Homo sapiens: one gene and its partners. The protein of the gene in region 1 purifies or fractionates together with the protein of each later gene. This does not show direct contact. Each region holds a gene or a part of one and is shown on either strand. Other genes may lie near its edges. The genes, in order: KLHL7, EOLA1 and GLI3.

The links.
Region 2: the proteins of KLHL7 (region 1) and EOLA1 purify together in Homo sapiens (co-immunoprecipitation; one large-scale study listed by IntAct). This does not show direct contact.
Region 3: the proteins of KLHL7 (region 1) and GLI3 purify together in Homo sapiens (affinity purification with mass spectrometry, with the first as the bait; one large-scale study listed by BioGRID). This does not show direct contact.

What each region holds. Positions count from the first base shown.
Region 1 is NC_000007.14:23,168,274-23,171,928, reverse strand, and holds part of KLHL7 (kelch-like protein 7), read right to left. Parts: intron 1-3,655. UniProt on the Homo sapiens protein: Substrate-specific adapter of a BCR (BTB-CUL3-RBX1) E3 ubiquitin ligase complex. The BCR(KLHL7) complex acts by mediating ubiquitination and subsequent degradation of substrate proteins. Probably mediates 'Lys-48'-linked ubiquitination.
Region 2 is NC_000023.11:149,543,891-149,546,455, reverse strand, and holds part of EOLA1 (protein EOLA1), read right to left. Parts: exon of another isoform or gene 1,365-2,565; coding exon of another isoform or gene 1,328-1,364; intron 1,089-1,327; coding exon of another isoform or gene 956-1,088; intron 855-955; coding exon of another isoform or gene 826-854; coding exon 573-825; intron 1-572. UniProt on the Homo sapiens protein: May play a role in cell protection during the inflammatory response. In epithelial cells, negatively regulates IL6 production and apoptosis through the regulation of MT2A expression.
Region 3 is NC_000007.14:42,027,707-42,031,361, forward strand, and holds part of GLI3 (transcriptional activator GLI3), read right to left. Parts: intron 1-3,655. UniProt on the Homo sapiens protein: Has a dual function as a transcriptional activator and a repressor of the sonic hedgehog (Shh) pathway, and plays a role in limb development.

The DNA of each region.
Region 1 (3,655 bases):
GACCATCCTGGCTAACACGGTGAAACCCCGTCTCTATTAAAAATACAAAAAATTAGCCAGGCGTGGCGGCAGGCGCCTGTAGTCCCAGCTACTCAGGAGGCTGAGGCAGGAGAATGGCGTGAACCCAGGAGGCGGAGCTTGCAGTGAGCTGAGATCACGCCACTGCACTGCAGCCTGGGCGACAGAGGCAGACGCCGTCTCAAAAAACAAAAAACAATTTGATGAATTCAACTTTATAAAACATAATTAAGGCACAATGATTAACTCTGAAGTATTAACAATTCTTTTGTCTTACATTTATGTATTGTTTTAAAAATGGTTTGACAGTCACCACTCTCATTTTCAAAGTTCTCTGTTAAGGTGAGGTGGACAGCATGGCTCCTGTTTTTAGGAAAAACACACACGCTCATCCAGGTGAAGTGACCGGCATACAGCTCGGAAGTGGGACAGCAGTAAAAACTAGGTCTTCACTGCCCTGCACGTAGTGAGATTTATAGACTCAGCTATCATCATGCATTAAAACACAGTATTTGACTTGGAAAAATTCCATTTACATACCACTTTCTTCTCCAAATATAATGTTAATGATATAAAAAGACAGCATGTCTTTATGTATATCTAAATCTCCTGAAGGTTTAGAAAAAACTTTCACAAATTCCCCTTCCTCCTATAATTCACATGCAGAGTACATACTAGGTCCCCGCTATCTGCAATCTGAAGTTTAATGTTTAGAAGCGTTTTTTCGCCTGTAATCCCAGCACTTTGGGAGGCCAAGGTGGGCAGATCACAAGGTCAAGAGATGGAGGCCATCCTGGCCAACATGGTGAAACCCCGTCTCTACTGAAAATACAAAAATTAGCCCGTGTGGTGGCGTGCGCCTGTAATCCCAGCTACTCAGGAGGCTGAGGCAGGAGAATCGCTTGAACCTGGGAGGCAGAAGTTGCAGTGAGCTGAGATCGTGCCACTGCATTCCAGCATGGTGACAGAGTGAGACTCCGTCTCACAAAAAAAAAAAAAAAAAGTCATTTCTTAAAATTCTGACCGCTCAAACTGTGTCACATTGTTTCCATAGACATAATTTCTTTCTTTCTTCAGTTACTTTATTATGAGCTTCTGCTCCTCTCCATCTTTTTTAAAACTGATTTTAAAAATGTGATACATAATACATGTACATATTTTTATGGTACCTGTGATATTTTGACACATGTATACAATGTGTAATGATCAAGTCAGAGTAACTGGGATATCCAGCACCTGAAACATTTATCTTTCCTTTTGTTTCTTTTTGGGCTAGGGAAGGAACCCAGGCCTCCCATGTTGCTGCTGAGGAATATCTTTTCTTTGTGTTGGGAACATTCCAATTCTTCTCTAGCTATTTTGAAATATACAATAAATTATTGTTAACTATAGTCTCCCTACTGTACTACTGAATATTAGAACTTATCCTATCTAACTGTATTTCTGTACTTGTTAACCAACCTCTGATAACCATCATTCTACTCTCTACCTCCATGAGATCAACATTTTTAGCTCCCACATGAGTGACAACATGTGTTATTTGTGTTTCTATGGTCCATAGGCTTAGTTTTTCAGCTTCCAATTAAACACATTCTAATTATCAAACACTTAAAATGTCAAAATTGGGAAGAAATTCTTATTAAAAAAAACTTGGCTGGCTAGATAACTTTTTGTTTTTATTTTTGTTTTTGTTTTTGAGACAGAGTTTCGCTCTTGTTGCCCTGGCTGCAGTGCAATGGCACGATCTCAGCTCACTACAACCTCCACCTCCCGGGTTCAAATGATTCTCCTGCCTCAGCCTCCTGAATAGCTGGGATTACAGGCACGCGCCACCACGCCCGGCTAATTTTTTTTGGTATTTTTAGACGAGACAGAGTTTCACCATGTTGGTCAGGCTGGTCTCGAACTCCTGACCTTAGACGATCCACCAGCCTCGGCCTCCCAAAGTGCTGGGATTACAGGTATGAACCACCACACCTGGACTAGGTAACATTTTTAAAAGGAAATAATATAACATTTATTTTGAGAGTTGGATAATTATATTCACACTAGCTTTTCATTTGTGAAAATTTAAGGGCATTGAAGGGAACATAGAGAATTCAAATTTAAGCTCAATATATATAAAATGAAAGAAATGCTAGGTCTTGTAAGTTTTTAAATATTCCTGAAACTGAATATTCACCTAGTTTTAAAAAATACAGAAGCTGCAGAACTCCTTTATATTTTTACTTTGAACAAAAAAGTAAGTAAAAAATCAATATTAATTTACATTGATAGTGCCTGAATAAAGATGTAAAAATTTAGAAACCTAGAGTTTTTATGGTTATGGCTTCTCTTTTAAGAGATTTTTTAGAAATAAAAAATAATTAGCAGAATGAATCAGTTTTCCAACTAGTATGCTGTAACACTTTTTGAGCCTAGGGTTTATGGGAAGTAAGGTAGAGGTTCACATAAAAGGGAGCAAAGTTGGTAAACATCTTTAGCAAAAGACAAATTTCAAGACAACTTGCTTTTCTATTATTTGCACTGGAAAGAAGTTATTGATTATGCTTCCTTAAATCTTTTAAAAATATGTGGGAATCATAGATAAATGCACATAATTAATCATATTTTATAATTAAGCTCTTATTTTTTTATTTTTTATTTTTTTTTGAGATGGAGTCTTGCTCTGTCACCCAGGCCGGAGTGCTGTGGCACAATCTTGGCTCACTGCAACCTCCGCCTCCCAGGTTCAAGCAATTTTCCTGCTTCAGCCTCCCCAGTAGTGGATTACAGGCACGCGCCACAACACCCAGCTAGTTTTTGTATTTTTAGTAGAGACGGGATTTTGCCATGTTGGCCAGGCTGATCTCATACTCCTGACCTCAAGTGATCTGCCTGCCTCAGCCTCCCAAAGTGCTGGAATTATAGGCATGAGCCACCATGCCTGGCATCTTATTTCTTAATTTTAAAAAAAGCAGTAGCTGGAGTTGAAGACTTCCATGTTTTGTAGTTTGGCAATATTTCCTAAATATAAAACTTTAAGCACGAGAGTTTTGATGCAACTCTGGCATAGCATTTTAGTGAACGTATTCACCCAGTAACTTGTTCTAGTAAGGGAAGAACGATGGGCAATCCAGCCATATGATCAAGTGACTTTTCTTATCAAAGCTCTTTGGATGTTTCCATAAAAGGTACGACTAGGGTATCATCTGTTTTATGTCCTCATCAGCTTTAATGTCACTACTCACAACCCGTGCCCTCATGCCCTCTCCATTATTCAATGATTAGCACATTTCCTTTGGCTACATTGAATGTGTTCCATCATTAACTACAAGGTCAGAAAAACTGGCTAACCAGTTATTTCTTTAGCATTTTACCTTTTTGACACACTTTGCCTTTTTAAAAGCAGTTGATTTAAGAATAATTTTATTTAATAAACATGAATCTAAATGTACTTAGGAAGTTTACACCTAAAAAGAACTAGGGAGGCATGATTTATTAATGCCATGAGCCAATATCTAATATTTCTACTTAAGGATAAATTTATTGCTGGTCATAAACTCCCCCCTCCTCCTCTACATTTCCTGACCGCTCAAACAAAAACATTTTATGAGTTGACGAATCAATCAGATGTGTCTCATTCATAGGCATTTAT
Region 2 (2,565 bases), on another chromosome or scaffold:
AGGGCAGCGGTTGCAGATTGGAAGGGCACCAGCCACTGCCTGGGAAGCTACAGGTGATGCCTGAGCAGGTCACCAGGGGACAGATGCTGATGTCGGGCCTCAGTCACCTAGAGGTTAGGGGACTTTCCCAGGGTGCTGTGAGTGGTGGGGCTGGGGCAGGTTCATGAAGCCAGGCGGGCAGCCCAACTCTAGAGGCCACCTGACCCATTCGGCGGGCTGGGCTGCTTTTCATGGTCTCTGCCACACATGTGCACTCACACATGTATGTGCAAATACACACAGCCAAACACCACAAACACCATGTGCACATGGCCCTGACCAGGCTTCTCACTGAGATCAGAAACAGGAACTGAGGCCCAGAGTGGAGAAATGATTTACCAGAACTCGTGGAAGCCAGCCATACCAACCCCCAGCCCAAGGTCCTTGCCGCCCCTTTGAAGGTGTGTTGCCAAAGGAAACTGTGTTATACACGCCAATCAGTTCAGATGACAAGAGAAGCCCCCAAATTCCCAAGCAAGATCTTGGGCAGCAGCCCTAGGCGTTGTCTGCGCATTTGGTACATTGTCACTTACCCGCTATCACTCCTCGACCAAACTTTTCCCCTTTCCTGAGCAAGGCCTGAATCTGAGCAGGAGTCATCCCGAGTCTCTCCACCAGCAGCTCCCGCCAGGCATCGCCTTCCCAGTCCCTGTGAGCAATGTGGACGGCGATGGTACAGTTCCGCTGGCTGCTCAGCAGGGGACGCCAGCGCGTCTCCACAGTCTTGATTCCATTTAAGACAAAGCCAGCATAAGGCTGCCGGAAGGAGAGGCAGCCAAACTTCATCTTCGCAAGCGCCCCGGGCCTCCCGTAGCCTGCGGAAGCACAGAAGCGCATCACACGCCAGCCCTCCAAGCTCATGGGCAGTGGCCTGACCTTCCCCCCGTGTCTCTCAGGTGGCCTAAATCGCACTGACCTTGATGGTCTCCTGCTTCCGTCTGTCACTGATGTCCAGCACCACAGCAGGCCCAAGGGAAGGGGCTGGGATTCGGCTGACTCAGGTCCATCCCATGGAGTCTTTGGGGCGGTCCGGAGTAGGGCGGGGACAGCTAGAGGAAGGCACAGGCAGGATACCATGTGGTCAGTGCTATGACAGAGGTCACCGAGCCCTAGGGCAACACAGAGGACAGAGGGCCCCCTTGGCCTAGCCAGAGTGGAGAGTCCGGGCTGGTGTTAGCCCTCTTCCAGCACAGAGGGAGAGTCCCACCCTCTGCTTCTCTTCCCTTTCCCCTGCTGTGCCCTGCCAATACTCTCAGTGCCCTGGCCCTGCCGCCACCAAGGCACTGACCTTCCCAGCTCCTACTCCAGGGCTGCTGAGCCCACATCGTTGATATCCAATCTCAGCTCTGTCCTCAGGATGCACCGTGACCTCAGATGGCCCTCAGTCAGACATCTCCTCTCCACCCCTCTGGGTGCCACCTTCCTCAAGCCCCTTCCCCTACCACTGCTCTCCACTGTCAGCAGATGCCCCTGTCCCAATCTGAGCTGAGAAAAGAAGAATGATAATCAGAACAACTAGCAACCCCACACACATGCCTTCCACGTGCCAGCCTCTGGGATGGCATGATCCTCGGATCATCAAATTGAATCTTCAAGTAACCCAGCAGGGTCAGTGGTACTGTGAGGCCCACTCTATGGCTGAGGAGAATGAGGCACCAGCCCACAGTCACACGGGCTCTGACTTCCCACAACTCTTGCCCAGCCTCCTGCGTGTCTGGCTTGGGAGAGGGTCCCCTCCTCTTGCATGGAGGACGGCCCTGTGCCTTGGAAGGAACCCTGGGCTCGAAACCAGAACCTCAGCCCAGTCATAGACTCTTGAGATGCCTCAGTTTCCACATGGCTGTGAGGAAGGGAGATAAGGCACCAAGAGCACCCAGCCCAGTACGTGGCACCTAATAGAACAGTCAGAAATAGTGGCTGCCCTCACCCCTCAGGCCCGTGGCCCCGCCCCCGGCCCTGAACTCCACCCTTGAGCTGCCCCTACTCCTCTCTCTGTCCTTCCTTTCAACACATAAACGCAACCTCTAGTACGCTCTATGATTTTAAGAAAATATACCCACCCTCATGAGACAAAGCCCTGATAGGGCCAAAGCTGCCTGGTATTCACTCCTTTCCCAGTCTGCACTGCAGCCTTCTGAGCTCCAGATCTCCTGCTTTTCTCCCGCCTCTGGGGTGAGCTGCCTCAGCTGAGCCGGTTGCCTGCTGTGCTCTGGACCCTGCTCCTCTGGCTCACTCCGGGCCCTGGGTGCCACCAGCCACCATCTATGCTCGCTCAGCATCCCTACTCTGAGCACACGCGCGCCTCCCACTCTGCCTCCCTTCTCTACAACCCTGAACAGCCGAGACCTCAGAAGAGCTGTCTACATGCGCAGTCTCTACTTCCTCTCTGAACCTTCTGCCCCCACCCCCACCTTTCTCCCTTTATTCCCCACCCCCCCCACCACCCACTCCACTGACTGACCTATCCCCACAAGCACCCATGGCCGGCCTCATGCCAGTCCTGTCTTCATCTTAGTCCATGCTCAG
Region 3 (3,655 bases), about 19 Mb from region 1:
CCATTTAAGACTGAATATCATTAAGAATACCCTAGGAGAATTTCACCAGGCTTTGAGAAACTCTCCTTTCATTCTACATTGTATTTCCTTAATAAAGGAAAGCAGAAACGTGGTGAAAACAGTCATTGTTCACAGTAAGTTAGGGAGAAATCAGTAATAATATTCCGTTTCTGCAGCGTTATAGTTACTGCCAGTGTTTCCAAAAGCAAGCATGAATGATTATGGCAAGACTTAGCTAAGGTAGCTGTGTGGATGATTGATAGGGCATTAATCAAAAGATGCATATCTGCCTCAGAATTTGTTCACAAGCTTTCTTCTAATAGCTGATTTCATGTTCACTGAGCTCTATGCCAGTTTGTCCAATTTATTTTTCAGTGTACAAGCCATTCATCAAAAAACACAATGATTTAACAGCCCCCCTTCCTTTGGGTGAATGAGTATTACTAAGTGTAACTACGTTATTCTATTCATTAAATAAACAAAAACCAAAATAACCCACTTCACATATAATTACCATGGCACACCGACTTTGCATGTATCTCCAAACACCTTTCCAGGGTTCTAGGAGCCTAGACTATCTGGCAGAGTTGAAAGAGGGTCCCTGAAGGTCATTTATACTTCTAATTCTGGGAGACACGACATTTGGGGGCTTAAAAAATCAGTACTTAATTAAAAATAGAGACCATTCAGAAAACATGCCCTTGATTTTATACAAAAGCAACTCAAAAGCATTCACAGACGGATAAGGGAAGTGCATTTTAAAAAAGATGTAGGAGGCCGGGCGCGGTGGCTCACGCCTGTAATCCCAGCACTTTGGGAGGTTGAGGCGGGTGGGTCACCTGAGGTCAGGAGTTCGAGACAAGCCTGACCAACATGGCGAAACCTCGTTTCTACTAAAAATACAAAAATTAGCCAGGCGTGATGGCATGCACCTGTAATCCCAGCTGCTCGAGAGTCTGAGGCAGGAGAATCACTTGAACTGGAGAGGCGGAGGTTGCGGTGAGCCAAGATCGCGCCACTGCACTCCAGCCTGGGTGACAGAGCAAGACTCCGTCTCAAAAATAAATAATAATAATAATAATAATAATAATAAATAAAAATAAAGAAATAAAAAGATGTAGGAGATATCCTTACAAAAGATAAGACTCAGCATTCCCACCGCAGTTTCCTAGGTCTACGATCCTCCTTGTCCTCGGGGAGCAGGGGTAGGGGTTCTGAAAGCTCTTCACATACTTTGGCCATATCCCCATTCAGGGCCTCCACCTTTTTGCTGGTAAAACCAGGTGACGGGAATAAATGTTCTCTAAAATCCACATCAACAATTAGACTGCAAGGGCTATGAGGGAACACACAGTGGACGGTGATCCTGAGCCTTCAGTGCTTATTCATAAGAAGCCAGCAACAGAAACATTCTCCTCCTCCTCGTGCACAGACCTGGGCCAGGGCAGGGTATGGGACAGCTTGTCTGGACCCAGAAGGGCTGGCCCTCGACCTTCTGCTGCTGCTCCTGCCAGGGACTGTGCGCAGGAAGGCTGCTCCACTCCAGATGACAAAGCCAATTTAGAATTTGATGACAAAAGTAGAAAGTTCTCAGCTCTGACACAGTATCACTTAACAGATTTGGGAGTCAAGGCTCCTCTGCTCTCAGAACACTGCCATCAGAGTGCTGGGGCAGAGGACGGGCGATGACTGGGCACAGCAAACGGATGTCAAGAGTCGCAGACAAAATGCCCATGAGAAAGGATGCCTCCCACGCATACCCTCAACTCTCTTGGGCAAGATCAAGGTATGAAAAGATTCTCCTGAGGTTTTCCCACTAGGGGGATAAGAAAACCTGAGCCACCACAGCCTCCTCCTTTAAATCAAGGTGGGGAGGGCCGTGGAGGAGGGGAGTCCTGCATCCTTTTGCCTCCTGTCACAGCATGAGTCCCTCTGCATCTTCAGCACTCACAGTGTCCCCTGCCTGGAACCCTTGGCTTCCAGAGCTCACAATGGCCACTTCCTTTTTTACATTCACGTTCCAGCTTAAATGTCACCTCCTCAGAGGGGCCTTCTTAGACTCATGCCCCATCAAAACGAGGCCCCTCTGCACCTCCTTGCCCCATCGTTTTCTACTGCGTGACAATTCTATTCTCATGGCAGCACGCAGTACTCTCTAAAACTCTTTCTGTCTCTCTGTCTAGGAGGCAAGGTCCAGCTGGGCCGGGCAGTGTGCCTGGCAGAGCAGACACGCAGTACTGAGTCAATGAGTGACTGAATCCATTCTTCAGTGTCTATTAGTTCCCTGTTGCTGCTGCAACAAACAGCCCAAACTGAGTGGCTTAAAAAAACAGACACTGTTTATTACCTTACAGTTCTGGAAGTCAGAAGTCTGCAATAGGCCGGCGGGGCTGCATTATTCCAGACGGTCTAGGCTCCCTGCCTGTTCCATTACCTGGAGGCTGCCCACATTCCTTGGCTCAGGGGTCCACATCACTCAGGCCTCCTCCTCCTCCTCCTCTGACCCTAACTTGCCTCTCCTGCTTCCCTCTCACAGGGGACCCTGTGATTACATCACTGCCACCCGGATAATCGAGGATCATCTTCTCATCTCAAGATCCTTAGCTTAATCACACCTGCAAAAGTCGTTCTGGCATGGAAGGTAACCTATTCACAGGTCCTGGGGATTAGGATGTGGACATCTTTGGGGCCGTTATCCTGCCTACCACACTCAAAAGAGTCACCTCAAAGAAAACTATGTTTTCCTCTGAAAACTACAATTTGACAACATGTCTGTAAAGCAGTATTACACAAACGAAGCTAGTGTCTACATCCATTTCTTTCTGCAGCACTTCAATGGCACAGGACAGACTTTGCTGATTAAAGATATCAGAATTAAAAACAGAAGGTAAATTCTATTTTTAGGGGCCCTGAATAAGAACCTTCCTAAATAGTTCATGTATTCATTCCACAATTTCCTACAAATAGAAATTATTACTATTGTTGATTTGTTTTTTTTTTTTTTGTTTTTTTGTTTCTTGTTTTTTTTTTGAGATGGAGACTCGTTCTGTCTCCCAGGCTGGAGTGCAGTGGCACGATCTCAGCTCACTGAAACCTCCGCCTCCCAGGTTCAAGCGATTCTCCTGCCTCAGCCTCCCGAGCAGCTGGGATTACAGGCATGCACCACCATGCCCAGCTAATTTTTGTATTTTTAGTAGAGATGGGGTTTCACCATGTTGGCCAGGCTAGTCTTGAACTCCTGACCTCAAGTGATCCGGCCGCCTCGGCCTCCCAAGGTGCTGGGATTACAGGCATGAGCCACCACACCCAGGCATAGTTGAAATTGTTAATAATCTCTTATACCTTCTCTAGAGCAGGACATAATCTACAGTCTAAACCTTGGTACCTGTGCTTCCCATCCTCATAGCCTCCATGTTTCTGTTCACCCCACTCTTTCCAATGAGTCACCAGAAATTAATTTTACATTCTGATTCTGAATTCTCTGCATTCAACAATTAATCTGTTATTATTTCTAAAATTACTTTTATAGCTTTTGTTTCTAAATAACTATATGAAAGATGGGGTAATTTAAGACAATAACAACAAACATTTATAAAAATGTGACCTGTAACTGTTAATCTATATTTAGTCAATAAGATCAGTAGAAAGAAAGTGT